Regions from separate parts of the Homo sapiens genome. Here region 2 is linked to region 1. The links come from fine-mapping of genetic effects on gene expression. A gene starts in region 1. The other region holds a variant in brackets. All regions are shown on one strand. Distances are between the middles of the regions.

Region 1 (5,382 bases):
CTCAGGTATCTGCCTGCCTCCGCCTCCCAAAGTGTTGGGATTTCAGGCATAAGCCACCACACCTGGCCATAATCTGGCTTTTCTACCTTTGTTGTCCATCATCTCCTGCAACCCTATGCTCATGAGAATACACAACTCTTCTGTTCCTACACTTTTAACACCTTCCGCACATGAGAATACACAACTCTTCTGTTCCTACACTTTTAACACCTTCCACACTCCATCTATCTTTGTCCAAACCACTAACAGAGACTTTCTTACCCACCTCCTGAACAAAACCAAGTTCCTTTTAATCTCCACATCTAGCATAAATATGCCCCCAAATTATTACTTTGAATATCATTTCCTGCTTTGTGCAGCATCAATTATCCATAGCAAAGAAAGGGTTCTAAAGCATGCAACTGGTTTAAAATGAGTTGCTTCACCATTGTACTGATCAGCAGACAGTATAACACACACAATAATTTGCTAAGGAAAGCCCATTTAAGCATTTAACTTACCTGTCACGAACACATTTAGCACACATGGAACCACCATAGGCCCTGCTGACATGTTTCTTTGTTTTGGACAATCTCATAAGAACTTTAGGTCTTACAGCACGAACCTGCATAAGAAAAATATTAAGATTTTTGTGATGCTTTAACAGAAATTTCCCTAAATTTTGTTAAGTGTTAAGGGCAAGTTTAAAGTAGGTTACAAAGGGAAATGGTGTACTCATTTATCTGAAAGGCATTTCACTGCATTTCTCAGATTGGTTTAAAAAGTCTATGTTCGTGGCAGATTTGGCTCATGAATGTTTAGTAATTCTGAACCCTCTTAGTGGTAACCTCTCCTTGATTCATTCCATCGTCAAGGGATGAAAGCTCAGTAAGTTCAAGACTTGTTAGGCTGCACACAGTAAAAGGTACACTTACCCCTCGAAGTCTGCCTGGGCACACACCACATGCAGATTTTGGTGCTTTCCCAACCTTCTTGGTATAAAGGTAAACAATTCTATTACCAGGGGTTCGGGACCTAGAAAGTGAAACAGTCAGTAGGTCAGCATTTTGTAGAGTAAATGACAATATATACTTAAAATTTTCAGAAATACTTACAGCCTAGTTTTGTTAGAGGCTGTATTGTAGGAAAGCCTACGTCGGTATGTCAAACGCTGGACCATTCTGAGTGCCTAAATTAAGAATAGAGTAACATCAAATCTTTCCATTGTAAAAGTAAATAAAATCTCAAAACAGTATCATGTGGTCTATTTCATTCACATACATATCCTTGTATGTAACACCCTTAAATTAAGATGTATTATTCCACATTTTAAAACTACTTGTATTTAAAGGTGACTGATAAACAAGAGGCCAAGAATGTTAGCTTTCCTGATGGTAATCAAACGTGGCACTTCCTTAACGTTCTGATGACCAGGCTCCTTACTCAGAGTCTAATTTTGTTTGGAGTGGTGTCCAGAAAAGTGCCACGAGCCCAGTTGGAGAAACACCGCTTTAAACAAAGAGCACAAAAAGTGAGCTCTGAAGTCGAATCCTTAGCTATGCCATTTACTGGGAATATAAAGGGCAAGGAGCTAGCCTCCTTATCTCTAACATGGGAATTCTGTCTACTTTATACAGCTGTCATTAGGATTAAACGACGTGGGCTATCCGTCCCAACACAATGCCTGGCACATATCAGGGTTCAATGTCTTGCCCTAAAGCACCACCTGCGTAAAGGCATACCCTTTAATACTAATTTTGATATTACACAAGTTTCTTTGGGTTATGGCACCTGCTTTCTTCCCACTTCTGGAAACATCGTGATGTTATTTAGCAAATCGGTTATACAGATATGCATACGAGCAACTTCGTTAAGGGAACTACCCAACGTAAAACATAATCAATACTTGAACTAATTTAATCTTCCCATTCCACCCCTTGTAACCACCTCATTTGTTGTCACAAGCCTCTCACTAAAATTAAACTAAAACAGAATTACCAGACACCAAAACTTGACACGTAAAACCAGTGCGAGTGATTTATGAAGCCATTATTCTGTTTGCATCTCCAAAAGCAAGACAGAAACTTCTAACACATTTTTCTCTTCCTTGACATGGGCCTTGGACGCAGAAGCCAAATAGCGAAACCACCCGAACTCGCCGGACCCTGCCCTCCCAAAGACTAAGGACACGTACAGGCGTGCTGTGAAAACGTGGGTGTAAAATATGAAAACGTTTGGCGATTTTCCAGACTCAAACCGCCAAACCACAACTCGTTAGTCTCCAAACGCTACACTTGGAATGCAGCAAAGTCCCGGGTGGTGAGCTGTGGCTACTCACGGCTTTGGAGGTGCCACCAGGAACAAGGGATTTCCAAAGATCAAAGTAAGGAACTTCCTCACCACCAACCTCCCTGTTGTGCCCCTTACCCCTACACCAGCTCAAAGGACTGCTTCTGAGAGCTCTAGGCTTCCTCAGCTCCTCGGATGGCAGCCGATTGGTAAGGAAATAAAGACAGGGAAAAGAGAACAACATCCATACCTGCAGACAACGTCCCCGGAAGAGGAAGAAAAAAGCCTTTGCCAGTTCAAAGGTCAAATAGAATTGCGCAGGACAGGAAGTTGCGTCAGAGAGAGAGTATCCGTGTTGTACGGAAGCCGACGCACCTCTCCGACGTGGGCAGAGATGCAGGGAACCACCACGTTGTACGGCAACCAACGTGCCGCCCCTCTGTGGGCGGGGATTCACACTAGCTGTCTGTGTCAAGGCCACGCAGAAATCTATTGGAAATCGCTGTGGAAACAAACGCAAATGAAAAGCCGCAAAGAGCAAAGGTGGGACAAAATCAACTTCTTTCGTTGTCATGGACACTGCACTTTTAATCTAAAGGGCGCCAGCTCTGGCGTTAGACCTGGGTTTAAATCCCAACTCTTGACATTTATGGTTAAGGGACCTTCAAGGACCAGGGACCTTCAAGAACCTTCCCTTCTTCAACCTTCCCTTCTCTTTCCTTGTCATTTATTCAGAGCACAAGCTTTACAAACAAATTGGGATTTTAATCCAGTGTCTGCTAATTATTAGCTATGTTACTTTGAGCAAGCCCTTAAATCTCTAAAAGGAAGATATTAGGAACTACCGTGCCATGTTATGTCATGATCAAAGGCATTATGAAGTTAAAGCACTTAGCACAGGGTCTTATAGAGAGGAAGTGCTCAGTAAATGGTTGCTAATCTTATGATTATGTACAAAGAACTACTTGAGGCTTTTCATGGGTGGTAAAGTTTAACCTTTAAAACAGTATGTAAAATTTTACATTAAGCGCACGTGTGTATTTTTCTGAGAAGAGGGTCCCTGGCTTTCATCACCTTGTCAAAGGGATTCATGACCTCTAAAAAAGTAAAGAACTCTTTGCCTGGGCTGTAAAAGACAATTCTAAAAGGGGCCTTTAAGTTTTTAATCTTAGATCAGGCTCCCTGGAAACACACCTCGAAGAGACTTGAGTGTTGGCTTATGGGGAGCGCTCTTAGAATGCACCTCCAGGAAGCTGAGAAAGGCGGGGTCAGGTGATCCACAACGTGGTTGCTGTGAGGCAGCTGCATTGCCCCAGAAGAGAGGATTTGGATAGGATATCCCAGTACCCACTCAACTTTCCTTCTAGTATTTCTAATCCATCTAGCAAACCAAGAAAGCAGGCAAGTGACTGAGGGCATGTAGTCTGTCTTGAACTGTGAGGCCTATTGATTCTATCAAGCCTCACATCACTGCCATCTTTGTCACAACACCAGATGGAAGGCTCTGGTTATATCCTTCCCTCTGCTCACTCTCAAATAGCTGCTTCTCCCCCGACCTTGTCATCAGCTACTTCCCTCCTTTCCAGTCCTTTGATTTTTGTCCTCTGAAATCCTTTTCGTCTCTGTGCCAGGCATTGAGATGGAAGCTTGCATAGAGAGACAAATGTGGTTTTTGAATAAATGCACTAATGAATGTATTTACTTGCAATATGTTCTCTATATTTTAAGAGAGACTTTGCAGAGCAGAAGAGAACAGGAGATGGGAGCCCTTGGCACACTATGCTGTTGTTTACGTCTCTGTCCGTGCCTTCCCCCACCCAAGTAGATAAGAATAGTGGTCTCATTGTTGTAGTTTTCCCTTAAGGTACTTAACCCAGTTCCATAATACTATTTTTCCCTCTCTTTAAATTTGTATTTGCATTTTTTCTTGATCAGTCTTGAGAGAGATATGGCAATCTTATTAAAAACTTCAAAGACAGCCAGGTACAGTGGCCCATGCCTGTTAATCCTAGCACTTCGGGAGGCTGATACAGAAAGATCACTGAGACCTGTAGTTAAAGATCAGCCTGGGCAACATAGCGAGACGCCCATCTCTACAAATTTTTTTTTTTTAATTAGCCAGGTGTTGTAGCACACACCTTTAGTCCCACCTACTCAGGAGGCTGAGGCTGGAGGATCACTTGAGCCTAGAAGTTTGAGGCTGCAGTGAACCATGATTGTGCCACCATACTCCAGCCTGGGCAACAGAATGAGATCCTATCTCAATAATAATAATAATAATAATAAATGTATGAAACTTTGGTATATGACAAAGGTAATATATCAGATTGGTGGGGAAAGATTGGTGACTATTCAGTAAATGAAGTTGGGAAAAATGGTTATACATATGGAAAGAAAAAATTGTATCCTTAAGTCACTCTACACTGAAAAAAAAAACCTTAAATGAGTCAATAATAAGGCTTTAATTTATTAGGAAATATAGGTGACTATCTTATAGACGTTGGAGTAGAAGAGGATTTTTTAAACAAGGCACAAAAAGCACAAACTCAGAAAAGACCAATAAATCTGACCACATTACAATTAATAGCTTTTATCAAAAAACCCTTAAATAAAAAAATGTTAAACCTCAAAGTTTCCCAGTCCAAGCCAAAAAAAGTATGATAGGTTCACCTTATTTTAATTTCACAAAAATTTGTAAAATATTTATTAAGTGCACACAGAAATTAATGAACAGAGAACAAAGACAGATTAAAAAAACAAATGAGATTCTTTAGGCCGGGTGTGGTGGCTCATCCCTGTAATCCCAGCACTTTGGGAGGCCAAGGCAGGTGGATCGCTTGATGCCAGGAGTTCAAGACCAGCCTGGCCAACATGGCGAAACCCCGTCTCTACTAAAAATACAAAAATTATCTGGGCGTGGTGACAGGTGCCTGTAATCCCAGATACTCAGGAGGCTGAGGCACGAGAATCACTTGTGCCTGGGAGGTGGAGGTTGCAGGGAGCCAAGATTGCACCACTGCACTTCCACTGAAGTTGCCAGCCTGAGCAACATAGAGAGATCCTGTCTCTAAAAAAAAAATTTTAAGGGGTTTTGTACATGTGATTATGATTACT
Region 2 (5,382 bases), 29 kb after region 1:
ACTCCGTCTCGAAAAAAAAAAAGAATAGCTTTGTTTGGCCAGGCACGGTGGCCCACTTTGGGAGCCGAGGTGCGTGGATTGCTTGAGCTCAGGAGTTCGACAGCAGCCTCGGCAACATGATGAGACCCTGTCTCCTCTAAAAATACAAAAGTTGGAGGTCGGGGGAAAGGGGACAGAGAGCATTAAGACAAATACCTAATGCATGCAGGGCTTAAAACCTAGATTACAGGTTGATAGGTGCAGGAAACCACCATGGCACATGTATACCTATGTAACAAGCCTGCACATTCAGCACATGTATCCCAGAACTTAAAGTAAAATTAAAAAAAAAAAAAAATACAAAAATTAGCTGGTGGCCGGGCACAGTGGCTCACGCCTGTAATCCCAGCACTTTGGGAGGCCGAGGTGGGCAGATCACTTGACGTCAGGAGTTCAAGACCAACTTGGCCAACATGGTGAAACCCCGTCTCTACTAAAAAAATATAAAAATTAGCTGGATGTGGTTGCATGCGCCTGTAATCCCACTTACTTGAGAGGGTGAGGCAGGAGAATTGCTTGAGCCTGGGAGGCGGAGGTTGCAGTGAGCTGCGGTCACGCCACTACACTCCAGCCTGGGCGGCAGAGCTAGACTCTACCTCAAATAAATAAATATATAAATTAATTAAATTAAATAAAAAAAAATTAGCTGGTCATATTGGTGCATGCCTGTGGTCCTGGCTAATCAGGAGGATTAGTTGGGAGAATTGCTTGAGCCCAGGAGATCGAAGCTACAGTGAGCCAAGATAGAGCCACTAAACTCCAGCCTGGGCAACAGAATGAGACCCTGTCTCAAAAAAAAAAAAAAAAAAAAAAAGAATAGCTTTGTTGGAGTTTCCCCCCGCCCCACCCCCCACCGTATAGTCTCTATTTCCTTCAAGTTGCTTTCTTTTGTTTATTGGTTTGGTCTTTATCTTCCATATCTTGTCATCCTTCCTTTATAATTAAGAACAAGGGATTTAAATCATAATTGGTTGCTCTGGGTGCTTCTGTGGAGCTTGTTTACTTTGGATGTCACTGTCAAGTGGTCTGGATAGGCTCTTTGTACTTCCAATGTCAATATTTAAAAAATCTTTCCTCCTGGCAGGGCATGGTGGCTCATGCGTGTAATCCCAGCACTTTGGGAGGCCCAGGTGGGCAGATCACTTGAGGCCAGGAGTTCAAGACCAGCCTGGCCAACATGATGAAACCCCATCTCTACTAAAAATACAAAAATTAGCTGGGTGTCGTGGTACATGCCTGTAATCCCAGCTATTTGGGAGGCTGAGGCAGAGAATTGCTTGAACCTGGGAGCCAGAGGCTTCAGTGAGCGGAGATCGCGCCACTGCACTCCAGCCTGGGCAACAGAGCAAGACTCCATCTCAAAAAAAAAAAAAAAAAAAACCCAAAAAACAAAAAACTTTCCTCCTATGTTGAGATTTTTAGCAGAAAACATTCTTCCGATCTCCTTACTAAAGGGAAATGACCAGGCTTCTGGCATTCTGGAAGCCAAGTGGAGGAAGTGATGAAAGGTTTTAGCATTCCATATGCATTCAGTCATGCAATCTGTCTGTGTTTGGTATGATGATAGATCTTTAATTGTATCTCGTGTCCTGCATTTCAAAGGCCTTCTGCTGCGCTTACTCCTCAGAATAAATCAGGTGAGGAAAGGGCAATGTGAGTTAAGGTATAGAGATTTAACCCAATGGAACAGCTTTCATTCAATCCTCATTTTACCCTCTTCATTATTTTGGCCTCCCCTCTACACCAGTGGTAGGGGTATATGGCACTGCCAGTTGTCAGTCTGCTTTTCAGATTCCAAAATTTTCCTGCCCTTGTATTCTCTTGTGCTTGCTTGCTTGCTTTTCTCTTCCTTCCTTCCTTCCTTCCTTCCTTCCTTCCTTCCTTTCTTTTTCTTTCTTTCTTTCTTTCTTTCTTTCTTTCTTTCTTTCTTTCTTTCTTTCTTTTTCTTTCTTTCTCTTTCTTTCTTTCCTTCTCTCTCTCTCTTTCTTTCTTTCTCTTTCTTTCTTTCTTTCTTTCTTTCTTTCTTTCCTTCTCTCTCTTTTCTTTCTTTCTTTCCTTCTCTCTCTCTCTTTTTCTTTCTTTCTTTCTTCCTTCCTTCCTTCTTTCCTCCCTCCCTCTCTCTCTTTCTTTCTTTCTCTCTCTTTCTCTCTTTCTTTCTTTCTTCTTCTTTTTTTTTTTTTCCAGAGTCTCACTCTGTCACCTAGGCTGGAGTGCAGTGGTGTGATCTTAACTCACTGCAACCTCCGCCTTCCAGGTTCAAGTGATTCTCCTGCCTCAGCCTCCCAAGCAGCTGGGATTACAGGCGCCCACCACCATGCCTGGCTAATTTATGTATTTTTAGTAGAAACGGGGTTTCACCATGTTGGCCAGCACCTGATCTCAAGTGATCTGCCCTCCTCAGCCTCCCGAAGTGCTGGGATTAGAGGCGTGAGCCACCGTGCCCGGCCTTTTTTTTTTTTTT[TC/C]CAGTTTTTTCTTTGTTTTTTAGTTTCTCCTTTTTTTTGTTTTTGTGTTTTTTTCATGTGAGTTGTACCTTTTCAAGAAAATCACTTTACTCAAGTTTTATGGAATTTTGTAGAGCAGCAAAATTAGATGTGTGGTTTAGTCTACCATCTTAACCCAGAAAACCATTTAGATCTACTTTTGCTCCTTTTTTAAAAATGAATGAAGTAGAAGTTTCAGGATACTGAGATAAAGACCAAAGCGTTCTTCTGTCTCCTTTATTTTCTCTCCATGACAATGTGAAACCATATTTAGATCAAACAAGTGTTCATTTAAGCCCTGTGCTTTTGAGAAAAATAGTTTTGAAAGTTTGAGCAATCTGAGCAAACTTGGCCCTTGGAGCTGACCCAAAGGAGTTTTCTACAAACCATGACCAAACTTTGTGGACACAGAGGCTGGTTGCTTAAAGAACAGACCTCTCCTAGGTCAGAAATGATAGGTTCCACTGAGAGCAAATTCAAACAACACTGTTTCATTTGAAGGAATTTCAATATCTAGGTTTTTCTCTAATAAATACATTAAACAACAAGCTTAATTTTTCTTGTGTTACTTATTACACAATTACAGATGTTACTTACTGAAATATGGATAAATTGTCTTTTAGGAAATGTTGACTGAGGACTAAGTATGAAGTACAATAAATAGAAAGTCAGAAAATACTAATCCCATTCATTTCCTATTTAAAAATGAGAAAAATGAATTATTAATTGTATTGTAAGAGTTATGGATACTTCAGGACTATAAACTGGGAATTTTGCCAAGTGTTGCTCAGACCAACCTTGATTAACATTCATTCACCATTCATTCATTTATTCATTCATTCACTCAAACATGTTTCTTGATCCCCCATATATGCAAGGCTCTGAACTAGTTACTGGACCTCTACCCGTGAACAAGGCAGACCCTGCCTTCTTGGAACTTGTGCTCTGGCAGAACGGACAAGCATGAAACAAGTAATTGCAACATGATTTACTGTGGTAAGAATATAAGAGAGGAGTGCTTGCCTTAATCTCAGGTGTAATGTTTGAGTTGAGATCTGAGAGAGGAGTAGATGTTAATTAGGCAAAGAGCAGGCATAGAATAGGGGGCCTGGAAATCTACCAGATCTAAGTCACAGAACAGTCAGTGTAAATACCCAGAGACATTCCTTGAGACACAGAGGGGCACAGACACAGCAAGAGAACTGGGCAGGAGGCAAAGTCCACATCATGATTAGCTGTAATGCTTCCTCAGGAAGACAAGAACTCCTCACAGCAGAAACACAGGGCAGAGAAATTTTTCTGCCCAACAGTTTGAACGGTCACCCTGCTTCAACATGACAAAACAAGCCAACGAAAATATTTTACTCAGGACAAGTTTTCAAAAAGCATAAATGCATTTTTTAATGGTTTAGACTTTTATTTGAATACAAAATGAAGTCTCTTACTGGTGAATAAGAACAGCATCTATTAAGAGTACCCAAATACCATCTATTATGTTATTTGCTAATGTATTTATACCACTCCCGCAAGCTGGTGTTTCTGTTTTGTTTTGTTTTAATCACAATTCAGTGTTAAAAAGATAAAGCTTTTTAAACATTCACTGTTGCTCAAAAGCTGAGTGCATGTGCTGTCTCAGATCATGAGGTTAGTGGTGCTTATTTCAATATTAAATAAAAGGATTCATTTTCATTGAAGCAAGCAGGGAATTAAGCTTACAACTTCAATTACCAATAATTAATTCTCCACACTGCAAGCCATGCAGTTTGCGTTTAAACTCCCAATGCCCCAAGGATAACAAAAATCTATTTTGATCACTTTTTATTTTCATCATTTAAAGAGTACATCTTATTTTAATTAGGCACATACATTTCCAGATTATAAGAGAGAACAAATATCCCTTCTAAAAAAAAAAACAGGGAATTGTGGGGAGTGGGGGACAGAGGACTTTTAAGCATGACAAAGAAATTTCTGAGATATTTTCTTTCTCTTGCTTTTATTGAAAGAGCACCTAATATTGTCGAGAATTAGCTACCTCATATCCATGAAGCTATTATTTACAGGCAGATGAATAATTTCTCTAAATTCATTTTTCCTTATGCATTAAGCTATTCTTTGCTGGCTTTTCATTATTTAAGAGAAAGAAAGCAATTGAGCACATGATTTTAAATGAGGCAAAATTAAGTCCTGCTCCAAAGCCAACCCCACCAACTCTGGAAGCAGGCATAAGGATGAGAAGGACTCTTCAGAGAGGGAGGCTTGACCTAGTGGTGGGTAAGGGAGACTGAGCTCATCAGGATCTTCCTTATTCTTTTGACAAATTCTGAGCAACAGAAAGGAACCGCCAGGGTGTCACCAAAGCAAAGACACAATCAGAGCTGGAGTTCTTAGAGATAAAAAGTGATGCTTGGAATTAGGTTTCATCAGAAAGAGGCAGACCTGTGTGGCATCCAGAAAATAAGTTCTAAGAAGACTCTTCTTTCAAGTTTTAAAGACATTAGGTTTCTTCCAGCCTGTAAGTGCTAACTTTGCCCCAAATAAATCTCATAATTCATAATACAATTGACCATGTTACAGTAAAATCTCATTTAAGTGGAACTTAATTAAATGAAACCATAAATTAACTAGAATTAGCTTCTATACTTGGCTTTCAGGAAAAATAGGGGAATCATAAAAAAAATGCAGTATAAGTCATTTAATAAAAAGTAATAGTTACAAAGGCAAGTTCTAAGGTCAGTGCACCTTCATCCCAGTCTTCAACCCACAGCTGAACAATGTCCAAACATATCCAGAATCTTGATCTTAGTACCCTACAAGATCTTTAATATAGGCAATAATATACTTTCTTTGTTTGTTTGTTTTTGAT

The links.
Region 2: its variant is fine-mapped to the expression of RPL34-DT in whole blood (INTERVAL, PIP 0.90).

What each region holds. Positions count from the first base shown.
Region 1 is chr4:108,617,737-108,623,118 of GRCh38, reverse strand. It overlaps RPL34-DT (RPL34 divergent transcript), which reads left to right and starts at 2,662. Exons shown (of 4, transcript NR_026968.1): 1 at 2,662-2,811. RPL34 (ribosomal protein L34) reads right to left here and starts at 2,543. Exons shown (of 5, transcript NM_001319236.2): 1 at 2,519-2,543; 2 at 1,095-1,168; 3 at 915-1,014; 4 at 501-604. The coding sequence starts at 1,159. RefSeq lists enhancers at 2,531-2,580, 1,806-3,005.
Region 2 is chr4:108,588,496-108,593,877 of GRCh38, reverse strand. The region is part of intron 1 of RPL34-DT (RPL34 divergent transcript); the gene reads left to right. Among named protein-coding and RNA genes, the nearest start is that of RPL34-DT, 29 kb to the left of the region's middle. The variant TC/C (reference allele first, on the strand shown) is at 2,501.